Linked DNA regions of Homo sapiens. The protein of the gene in region 1 purifies or fractionates together with the protein of each later gene. This does not show direct contact. Each region holds a gene or a part of one and is shown in the gene's direction. Other genes may lie near its edges.

Region 1 (4,219 bases):
AATTTGAAGTGAGGTAATGTGATTCCTCTAGTTTTGTTCTTTTTGCTTAGGATGGCTTTGGCCATCCTGCATTTTTAACCCTTTTCCCATTTTCACCCAGAATACTCGCTGGTGGCACTTGCAGCTGCAGGGTTTACCCTGAGATAACTTTGCCACAAAATATCTCGCCTTTATTATTATTTTCACATCGTTCTAATATATCGACTTTGAAAACACAAATCATCATTCTATTTATAGCATCTTGTTGTTAGCAGTGGTATTTCCATTTACAAAATATAGAAATTCTTGATCGCTGAAAATGTCAAATTCTAGAAAGCATAGCATTCCCATGTTAACATTGTTCTCAAACAGTTTTGGGCCAAAGAGTCATTTAATGAATCCGGTTTTTTCCAAAATAGATGATTCTGATTATTCAGATGATTCTGATGTTAGTTCTGTTTAAAAATAATTCCAAGAACAGTTTGTATATTTTATTTTCACACTGAACATCAGTCAGCCTCCAGAGCATGTTAATGTAAAATTAAATGAACATGGGCAGTGAGCTGCAGTTTTTTTTCTAAACAGTGCAGCTGTTTAGAAAATTTTTTTAAAATTTTCCTGATTTCCTTGGTATTAAACATATGTGGGAGAAATACAGCTCAGCAAACTCTTCCAGGAGATAAAATGCTGATCACTCCTACTGGGCAATTTCACAAATGTCTCCTATATTTTTCTCCTTTGGTAGTGGGGATGGGGGGCATAATGTTACATTGGGCCTCTCTCCTCTCTCTCTTTCTCTCTCCCTCTCCTTTTAAAATGTTTCCTCTCTCTCAATATTTCATTTCTTATTTGTATTTCTGAATGAGGGAAAAGAGTTGATGGGACAGCGGAACGGGAAAAAGAAGAGCACCAATAAAACCTGTTTTCCTGTTTTCACTATTTTCATTCCAAATTCCTTCTGTCTCATAATTGATGGAATCTTATGAACTTATTAGTTAAAAAGTGTCTTTCTTGTTTCACAGGAATTCATATCGGGGTGATCACTCAGAAGAAAAGGTGAATACCGGATGTTGTAAGCTATTGAACTGCCACAAGTGATATCTTTACACACCATTCTGCTGTCATTGGGTATGTACAAAGTGCTGCATACAGACAGAGGAGAAGGACAATTGAGCCCATCTAAAGTTAACAAAAACTTCCTCTTGGGGCTGTTTCTTTCCATCAGACCTTACAGTTCTACGGGATAATAGCTTATCTCATAAGGCCTCAGCTTTCTTTAATAATTTCTAGAAGCAGACGTTATTGTGTCATGCACACTCAGTGTTGCAAATTAATGGTCTGGTGATCTGGGTGGCATGGCATTTTCCCCTTCTCTGGTTCATCACCCATGATAGACCAGTAAAGGTGACCACTTAAATTCCTTGCTGTGCAGTGTTCTGTATTCCTCAGGACACAGAGCTTCCTCTCTCCCAGGAGCCATGAATATCCTGATGCTGACCTTCATTATCTGTGGGTTGCTAACTCGGGTGACCAAAGGTAATGGAACCCTATAAAGCAGAGATGATGACTAGGATGAGTTGTTGCCCTTGGGCTCCCCTGGTATCATGATGGGAAGAGAGGGAATCTGCAGGAAAAATCTGGGCCAACAAAGAGCAGCAGAATGCTCTTATTTTGGCAGCTCCATGCCCCTAGTCTCTGAGAATCTTTCTGTTAGGGGCATCTAGCAAGCTGGGATGTCCTCTGAGGCATTTCTCCAAAGACAAGAATTTCCTTAATGCTCTGAGCCACCCTATCTGTCTCTCTACATAACTATCCAATGTTAGTTCAGCCTCACTTCACTTCCATTTCGATTATTCTGTTGTATCTATTTCATTGTTGTGTCCTATTAGTTCTCCTACCATCTTGAATTCTTCTTTGCCCGGAGGGTACCTTCAGAGGGAGGCCCTCACTTTCATGTTCTTAGATATGGTGAACAAGTCCATTGACAGTTTGTAGATTCTGTAGCACTATCATATGGAAGAGACAATATATATGTTTGGGGTAGAAGTGGAAATAAGTGGAGTGAAGACAGGATAGACAGACTAGTGACCAATGGGGAGCTTCTAATTTTAGATGAATAGGAACAGTCTGTTTCCACTATTTAATAATGCTACTTTTGAAAATTGTTAACTTTTTATTAAAAAATAATACTTGCAATTGACTTATGTATCAAGCAATCGATGGATTTATAGGGTTTAAGGAAAAGAAAAATGTTTGTCTGTCCAAGAATACCAGTTCTTCAGTCTTCCCCTTCAGAATCAATCAATGTTACCAATTTCTTATATATCCTAGCAAATACAAATATATTTATATTTGCATGTGTATACCTTTTAGATTTTTAAAAAATGCAATTGCAAATGCACCATGTGAATTGTTCTGCAATGTACTAGCAATATATTAGAGACATCTTATCCATACATAAACCTAGTTCATTATTTTTAATCGATAAGTAAAACTTTGAGGAGGAGCAGATGAATTGCCTCACATTAATTACTCCGCTACTGATGAAAAATAGGTCTTTAATTATCAAAAACAATTCAGCAAGAAAAATTTGTAAACAAATGTATGTCTTTTCATTTATGACTGGACACGTGGACACACACACACACACACACACACACACAGTCAAACCACCTACCAGAAAAGCTGAACTATTCTTCTCTCCTATCACCAGTTGCAAGAGTGTCAGCTTCCCACACCCTCATCAGTCCTTTTTGTTTTTTCTACTACATTCAGTTTTCTACTACATTCAGTTTTACAGTCTAATATGTGAAAATGATGTCCTGATGTTTGAATTCATGACACTTTAGTTATAAATGAGTTTGAACATCCAGTCCATTAGATTTCTAAACTTTCTTAATTATCTTTATATACTAAGAAATTTGGCTTTTGTTAAATTTGGAGGTGTTATATGTTGCCTAGAAAGATGCTATTCATGTCTATTAAATGGTTATAACTGTGCCTATGATCTGTTATGTCTTGATTCACATGTTGATGTAATGTGAGTTACAGAATTAATATCTACATTCATTTCTGATTATAAACTGCTGTATTTGTTGAAAATTTGGAAATTTTGAAATTGTAAAGAAGTAAAAAAATTGTAAAGAAGTTAAAAGAGACAAAATATTTTTGATCTATTGTTCTTCCTCAGTTTTCTTATTTGAATAAAAATGTATAGCATACTTATAAATTTTCTATTATACTATTAGTATTTTCCCATTTACTATTTTCAAAAACTGTATTTCCAATGACTGTATAAATTTTATAGAATGGATACTGTTTAAATTACTTAGCCAAATTGTTTTTGCATAAATAAGTGCATTTACATTTTATAGACAAGGATGGCTAGTATAACCTTTCTTATACATAAATCATTCAGCATAAAATTCCTGGAGATGTACTTTTTTCTGTCTGCTTCATGTGTTATCAATTTTTGAATACTTGCCAAGTCCTAAAAATGAAATATTATATATAAATATTTAATTTTTATTTATGTCTGTGAGTAATGGGGAAGTCGAACTTCAAATACATGCTTAATGTATATTTAACTTTTCTACAAATTGTCTATGTCTCTCTTTCTCTTTTATTTTGGAGAGGTAGTTTTCATTTCTTTTGATTTAGAGATTTTCATTTTTGTGTTCTCTTATAGGTTTTGTTTTGAAATTTAGCTATTTAGTCTCTCTGGGCTTTATATTATGTGTTTTCAAGTGAGATAGCACCTGATGGCTTGTGAAGCAACTTTTTACCAAGCCAAGCTATCAGTGGACTGGTATCCATAGATATATTTTAAGTTGATGCTAGCTGATTATATATCTGGTATGTTTTAGAAAGAACTCCACACATGGGATAATGTTTTGGCTAGATGGCTCCCCTACTTAGAAACATACAATTGCTAGTCATATTTCTAATTTTAGGATTTCGAGATACTGGTGATGAAGATCACATGTCCTAACAACATAATAGTTCCAGACTGAAGTTCTTTGAAAAAAATGACTGTTGTCACTTTAGAAAAAAAAAATTATGAATTATTCCCAATTGCCATCATTCTACTGCTAAAACCAAATTCTTGGAATTATCTATGATTTTTCTATATCCTATGACACTCATATCTATCAGGAAGTCTATTACATCTGCCTGCAAATTATATCCAGAATGCAATTATTCTCGCCACCTCCATTGCTGCCACTCTGATTCTAGTCAC
Region 2 (2,321 bases), on another chromosome or scaffold:
AACAGTCCCAAAGACAACAAGACCCCTCTCCCAGCCTCCACAGAATGGAAGATCTAAAGGTTCTCTTGAGATGATCCAGCTAGTATGGAAGATCTAAAGGTTCTCTTGAGATGATCCAGCTAGTGTCCTATTCTCCTGCAGTCCCTGTTCCTAGGTTTCCTCAACGAAGTTTGACAAAAATCTAAACCAACATAGCCAACGAACTTGCCTTGTTACACAAGAGTGGCTAAAATAGCATCTCAAATATTCTTTCAGTTCACTGTAAAAATTTTTCCCATGTACCTAGAGCACAATTCCCCAGGAATATGAGTTGGGAATGGCAAAAGAATATTGCCTGACTCACATTTTTCAAAAATAAGGAAAGCTGGCTGGGCGCAGTGGCTTACATCTGTAATCCCAGCACTTTGGGGGGCCGAGGCGGGCGGATCATGCAAGGTCCGGAGTTCGAGACCATGCTGGCCAACATTGTGAAACCTCATCTCTACTAAAATACCCAAAATTAGCCGGGCGTGGTGGCGTGCGCCTGTAATCCCAGCTACATGGAAGGCTGAGGCAGAAGAATCGCTTGAACCCAGGTGGCGGAGGTTGCAGTGAGCTGAGATCGCACCACTGCACTCTAGCATGGTGACAGAGTGAGACTCCCATCTCCAAAAAAAAAAAAAAAAAAAAAAAAAGGAAAGCAGGACCCAGTGGTGTGCTCCTGTAGTTCCAGCTATTCAGGAGGCTGTGGCAGGAGGACCACTTGAGGCCAGAGGGTCAAGGCTGCAGTGTGCTATAATTGGGCCTGTAAATAGCCACTGTACTCCAAGCTGAGCAACACAGTAAGACACTGTCTCTAAAAATAATTAAAGTAAAATAAAAATAAGGAAAGCTCCTGTGACATCAACCTGATCCAGAATTGGGGACAGCGCTACTGCGGGTTCAATGTACTGCCATGTTTTCCCTGTCTTATCAGTTCTATCAGCACACTGACCCCACTCGAGACCAACTACAAGACTAAGGCTGGAAGTGGTTGAGTAGCAGAAGTGTTATGTATTCTATCTTCCCAAGGGAACCATATCCACATCTACCCCTAACTTTGGCCTGAGCTGAAAATGGGTTTTCTCTCCCTGTGGCTCATTTGTTTCCTATATTGAGAGAACACCCAAAAAAAGACTACTCAAGATGACTTTTTACAAGTCTTTTCTTTATCCTAAAACATCCTCCAACCGAAGGCATGGGAAGCTATCCTATACTCTGACCTTGCCTATATTTTAAATGGCAGGGGCCCCAAGCTAAGAATCAGCAGGCAGTGGCATCTACAGCTTCTGGTCTGTAGTGGCGTAGAAGCAGGAAAATCAATGCTCCAAAGCAACAATGTCCAGCTTTCCTGCCAGTGAGCTGGGCTTGAGGGAGTGAATGGGACTCTTTCTGCCTTTTCTTTTTCTCAAAATACGACTGCATTAACTGGGTGTATGCACACACAAACATGTTCAAACTAGGGCACTCATACCTAGCTAGAACCTACTCAGGGAAAGAAATATGTATTTCCACAGTACCCTGATCACCCAGTAAAAGCTAATATTTATTGAATAATTACTATGCAAATTATGGTAAGCAAATTGTAGTGTGAATACATGATATGAGAATATCACTTAATTCACACAGCAACCTTCACAATGGGGTTCCTTTTGGTACAGTCTGAAAAGAGAATGATTATCTGCGCAGGGTCTCAGAGCTAGTGTGGTAGAATAAGAAATTAAACCTAAGTAGTTGCTAAACAATATTACATTCTAATCTATCCTATTGAAAGTGATCCGGGAGGTAGAAACCTAAATACAGGAATAACATAAGGGAAAGAGATAACAAGAAAGTTAGGGACACCTTGGACTCAAAGAATCTGGAAAGATGTGAAACCTGTAATTTTAAATCCCTTTGGAAGGGAAAAACAAGAAAAGTCTAGATATGGCAAGAGAAGGGGAGGTTAAATTTTGGGGGGATTCCAATAATCAGAAATAAGTGGCATTGCCAGAGGCCCTCATATAAGAGAACAGCAAAAAAGTTATCCTCCCTTAAGTTCCTCCCTCACTCCTCATATCAGACACAGCAAGAGAACTCAGCTCAACACCAAGAAGTCCTGCCCTTATTCACACCTTCCTTCCTATAGCCCTCATCCTCACAGAAGCTTCTAGCCTCTATCTTCAGCAGTTCTTAAGAGGTGGGGTGGGGGGCTGGGCAGTTTAGAGTGAGAGTGGAAAAAAAGAATAATCCTAGAGAACCATAAAAAAGTACAGATTTACAGCTGAGGAAGCTAGTTCTCCCCACAGCTTTTATAGACTCCC
Region 3 (3,500 bases), on another chromosome or scaffold:
TTGTTTTGAGACAGTCTTGCTCTGTCACTCAGGCTGGAGTGCAGTGGCAGAATCATAGCTCACAGCAGGCTTGAACTCCTGGGCTCAAATGATCCTTCTGCCTTAATCTCCCAAGTAGCTGGGACTCCCAAGTATGCGCCACTACACTTGGCTAATTTTTTATTTTTTGTTGAGACAGAGTCCAGGTGGGTTTTGAACTCCTGGCCTTAGGCGATCCTCCTGCCTCGACCTCCCAAAGTGCCAGGATTACAGGCATGAGCCGCCGTGCCCAGCCAGATCTTGCATGTTTTTTGTTAAATGTTTTCCTAAGTCTTTTATTTTTTGATGCCATTGTCAGTGGAATTATGGTTAAAGTTTTCCAGTTGTTTGCTGCTAGTATGTAAAAATACACTGCTAGTAGGTAGAAATAATTTTTGTATATTAACCTTGTCTTCTGAGACCTAGCTAAACTTATTTATTCTACTAGGGTTTCCTCCCTTACAATTTTTGATGTTAGCAATGTATTAACTATAAATAGGAACAATTTTTGTTGTTGTAGTTTTGTATCATTTATGTATTTTTTCCCCCTTATTGCTCTGGTGAGGACAGGCAGTTCCAGGCTGAGCAAAAGTGAGATAGCACGCCTCCTTGCCATTTGTTCCTGATCTTAGGACCAGTCTCTGACCATTAAGTATGATGTTAACTTTACATTTTTTTGTAGTTCCCTTTATCAGATTGAGAAAGCTCCCTTTGGTTTCTGGTTTCCCGAGGGTTTTTATCCTGAATGGGGACAAATTTTGTCAAATGCTTTTTGTTTTTTCTGGTAATTATTGAGATAATCATATAGTTTCTCACTTTATGAACTGTTATGTGGTAGATTACATTGCATTTTCCAATAGTAAATCAACGTTGCTTTTTTGGGATAAACCTTACTTGGTCATGTTGGCTTTGGTAATTTTCTTTAATGTTTGTTTCTATTTCATTGTTTTCTGTTCTTTGTTATTTCCTTTTTCTACTTATTGTGGATTTAGTTTGCTCATATTGTTAGGCGGAAACTTAGATGACTGTTTTTTAACCTTTTTTTCCTTCTAATGTAAACATTCAAAGATATAAATTTCTAAGTACAACTTTAGCTGCTCTTCACAAATTTTGACACTTTGCATTTTAATTATCATTTAGGTTAAAATTTTTTTTTTGTTTTTTGTTTTTTGTTTTTTTTTTTTGAGACAGAGTCTTGCTCTGTTGCCCAGGCTGGAGTGCAGTGGCGCAATCTCAGCAGAGCAACCTCGGCTTCCTGGGTTCAAGCTATTACCCTGCCTCAGCCTCCTGAGTAGTTGGGACTACAGGTGCACGCCACCACACCCAGCTAATTTTTGTATTTTTAGTGGAGATGGGGTTTCACCATGTTGGCCAGGATGGTTTTGATCTCTTGACCTTGTAATCTGCCTGCCCTGGCCTCCCAAAGTGCTGGGATTACAGGCGTGAGCCACCACGCCCGGCCTAAAAAAGTTTTTTAAGAGACAGGGTCTTGGTCGGGTGCAGTGGCTCATGCCTGTAATCCCAGCACTTTGGGAGGCCGAGGTGGGTGGATCACCTTAGGTCAGGAGTTTGAGACCACCCTGGCCAACATGGCGAGACCTGTCTCTACTAAAAATACAAAAATTAACCAGGTATGGTGGCGGGCACTTTTAATCCCAGCTACTCTGGAGGCTGAGGCAGGAGAATTGCTTGAATTCAGGAGGTGGAGTTTGTAGTGAGCTGAGATTGTGCCACTGCATTCCAGCCTGGGCGACAAGAGCGAAACTCTGTCTCAAAAAAAAAAAAAAAAAGAAAGAAAGAGACAAGGTGTCCCTCTGTCACCCAGGCTGGAGTGCAGTGATATGATCATAGCTCACTGCCACCTCGAACTCCTGTGTTCAAGCAGTCTCCCCGCCTCAACCTTATGAGGAGCTAGGACTTCAGCCACATGCCACCACACCTGGCACATTTTTTATTTTTATTTTTGTAGAGACAGAGTCTTGCTGTGTTGCCCAGATTGGTCTTGAACTCCCAGTTTCAAGCAATCCTCCTGCTTCAGCCTCCCAAAGTGCTGGGATTACAAGCGTGAGCCACTGCACCTGGCTGAGATTATTTTATTTATGGTTTAGAATATGATCTATCCTGTTTAATTTTTCACGTGTACTTGTGAAGAATATATATTCTATAGTTTTTTTTTATTTTATTGTTTTAGAGATGGGATCTCAGTATGTTGCCCGGGCTGGTCTTGAGCTCCTGGACTCAAGCAATCCTCCTGCCTTGGCCTCCCAAAGTGCTGGGATTATAGACATGAGTCACTGTACCTGGCCTATTCTGTAGTTATTGAATATAGATTTCTATACATGTTAATAAGCTGAGGTGATTGATACTTTACTTCAGATTTTCTCTATTAAAAACTATTGGCCAAGTACAGTCACTCATGCCTATAAGTCTAGCTCTTTTGGAGGCCGGGATGGCAAATCGCTTGAGCTCAGGAGTTCAAGACCAGCCTGGGCAACTTAGTGAAACCCCGTGTCTACAAAAAATACAAAAATTAGTTGGGTGTGGTGTTGTACACCTGTAGTCCCACCTACTTGGTGGGGCTGAGGTGGGGGAATCACTTGAGCCCAGGAGGTGAAGGCTGCAGTGAGCCAGGTTGGCACCACTGTGTTCTAGCCTAATAAAGACTGTATTAATACAGGAGAAAATAGGTGTATTTAGCTTGCTTGTGGTTCAAGCTTACATGTGTATCTTTTCAGTTGCCTACATTTACCTGTGTGTATGTGTGTGTGCTTGTGCATTTTAGGCATTACAACATATATCTTTTGTTTATTGCATGTTTTTATTTTTGAGACAGAGTCTCTCTCCGTTGCCCAGGCTGGAGTGCAGTGACACAATCTTGGCTCACTGCAACCTCTGCCTCCTGGGTTCAAGCAATTCTCCTGCCTCAGCCTCCAGAGTAGCTGGGATTACAGGCACCTGCCATCATGCCCGGCTAATTTTTGTATTTTTAGTAGAGACAAGTTTCGCCATGTTAGCCAGGCTAGTCTCAAACTCCTGACCTCAAGTGATCCACCCGCCTCAGCCTCCCAAAGTGTTGGGATTACAGGCATGAGCCACTGCACCTGGCCTATTACATCTTTAATGTTAATATTATCACACTGTCTGGGGCATGATGTTGAATAAGAGTGGTGAGAGTAGACATCCTTGTCTTGTTTCTGATCTTAGAGGGAAAACATTGTCTTCCACTGTTAAAAATATTAATTGTGGAGTTTTTGGGTAGGTATGCTTTATAAAATTAAGAAAATTCCCTTCTATACCTAGTTTTCTAAGAGTTTTTTTTTTTTTTAATCATGGATGGATGTTGAATTTTGTTAACTGTCTTTCCTGCACCAGTTGATACAATCATGTGGCTTTTCTTCTTTACTCTGTTGATATTATGAGTTACATTGATTGATTTTTTTTGAATGTCAAATCAGCCTTGCATTCTTGAGATGAACCTCACT

The links. The genes of interacting proteins can lie anywhere in the genome.
Region 2: the proteins of DEFB125 (region 1) and GDF11 purify together in Homo sapiens (affinity purification with mass spectrometry; one large-scale study listed by BioGRID and IntAct). This does not show direct contact.
Region 3: the proteins of DEFB125 (region 1) and LMLN purify together in Homo sapiens (affinity purification with mass spectrometry; one large-scale study listed by BioGRID and IntAct). This does not show direct contact.

What each region holds. Positions count from the first base shown.
Region 1 is NC_000020.11:86,253-90,471, forward strand, and holds the start of DEFB125 (beta-defensin 125 preproprotein), read left to right. Parts: upstream 1-1,419; 5' UTR 1,420-1,457; coding exon 1,458-1,515; intron 1,516-4,219. UniProt on the Homo sapiens protein: Has antibacterial activity.
Region 2 is NC_000012.12:55,753,122-55,755,442, forward strand, and holds part of GDF11 (growth/differentiation factor 11 preproprotein), read left to right. Parts: 3' UTR 1-2,321. UniProt on the Homo sapiens protein: Secreted signal that acts globally to regulate anterior/posterior axial patterning during development. May play critical roles in patterning both mesodermal and neural tissues. It is required for proper vertebral patterning and orofacial development.
Region 3 is NC_000003.12:197,963,217-197,966,716, forward strand, and holds part of LMLN (leishmanolysin-like peptidase isoform 1 precursor), read left to right. Parts: intron 1-3,500. UniProt on the Homo sapiens protein: Metalloprotease.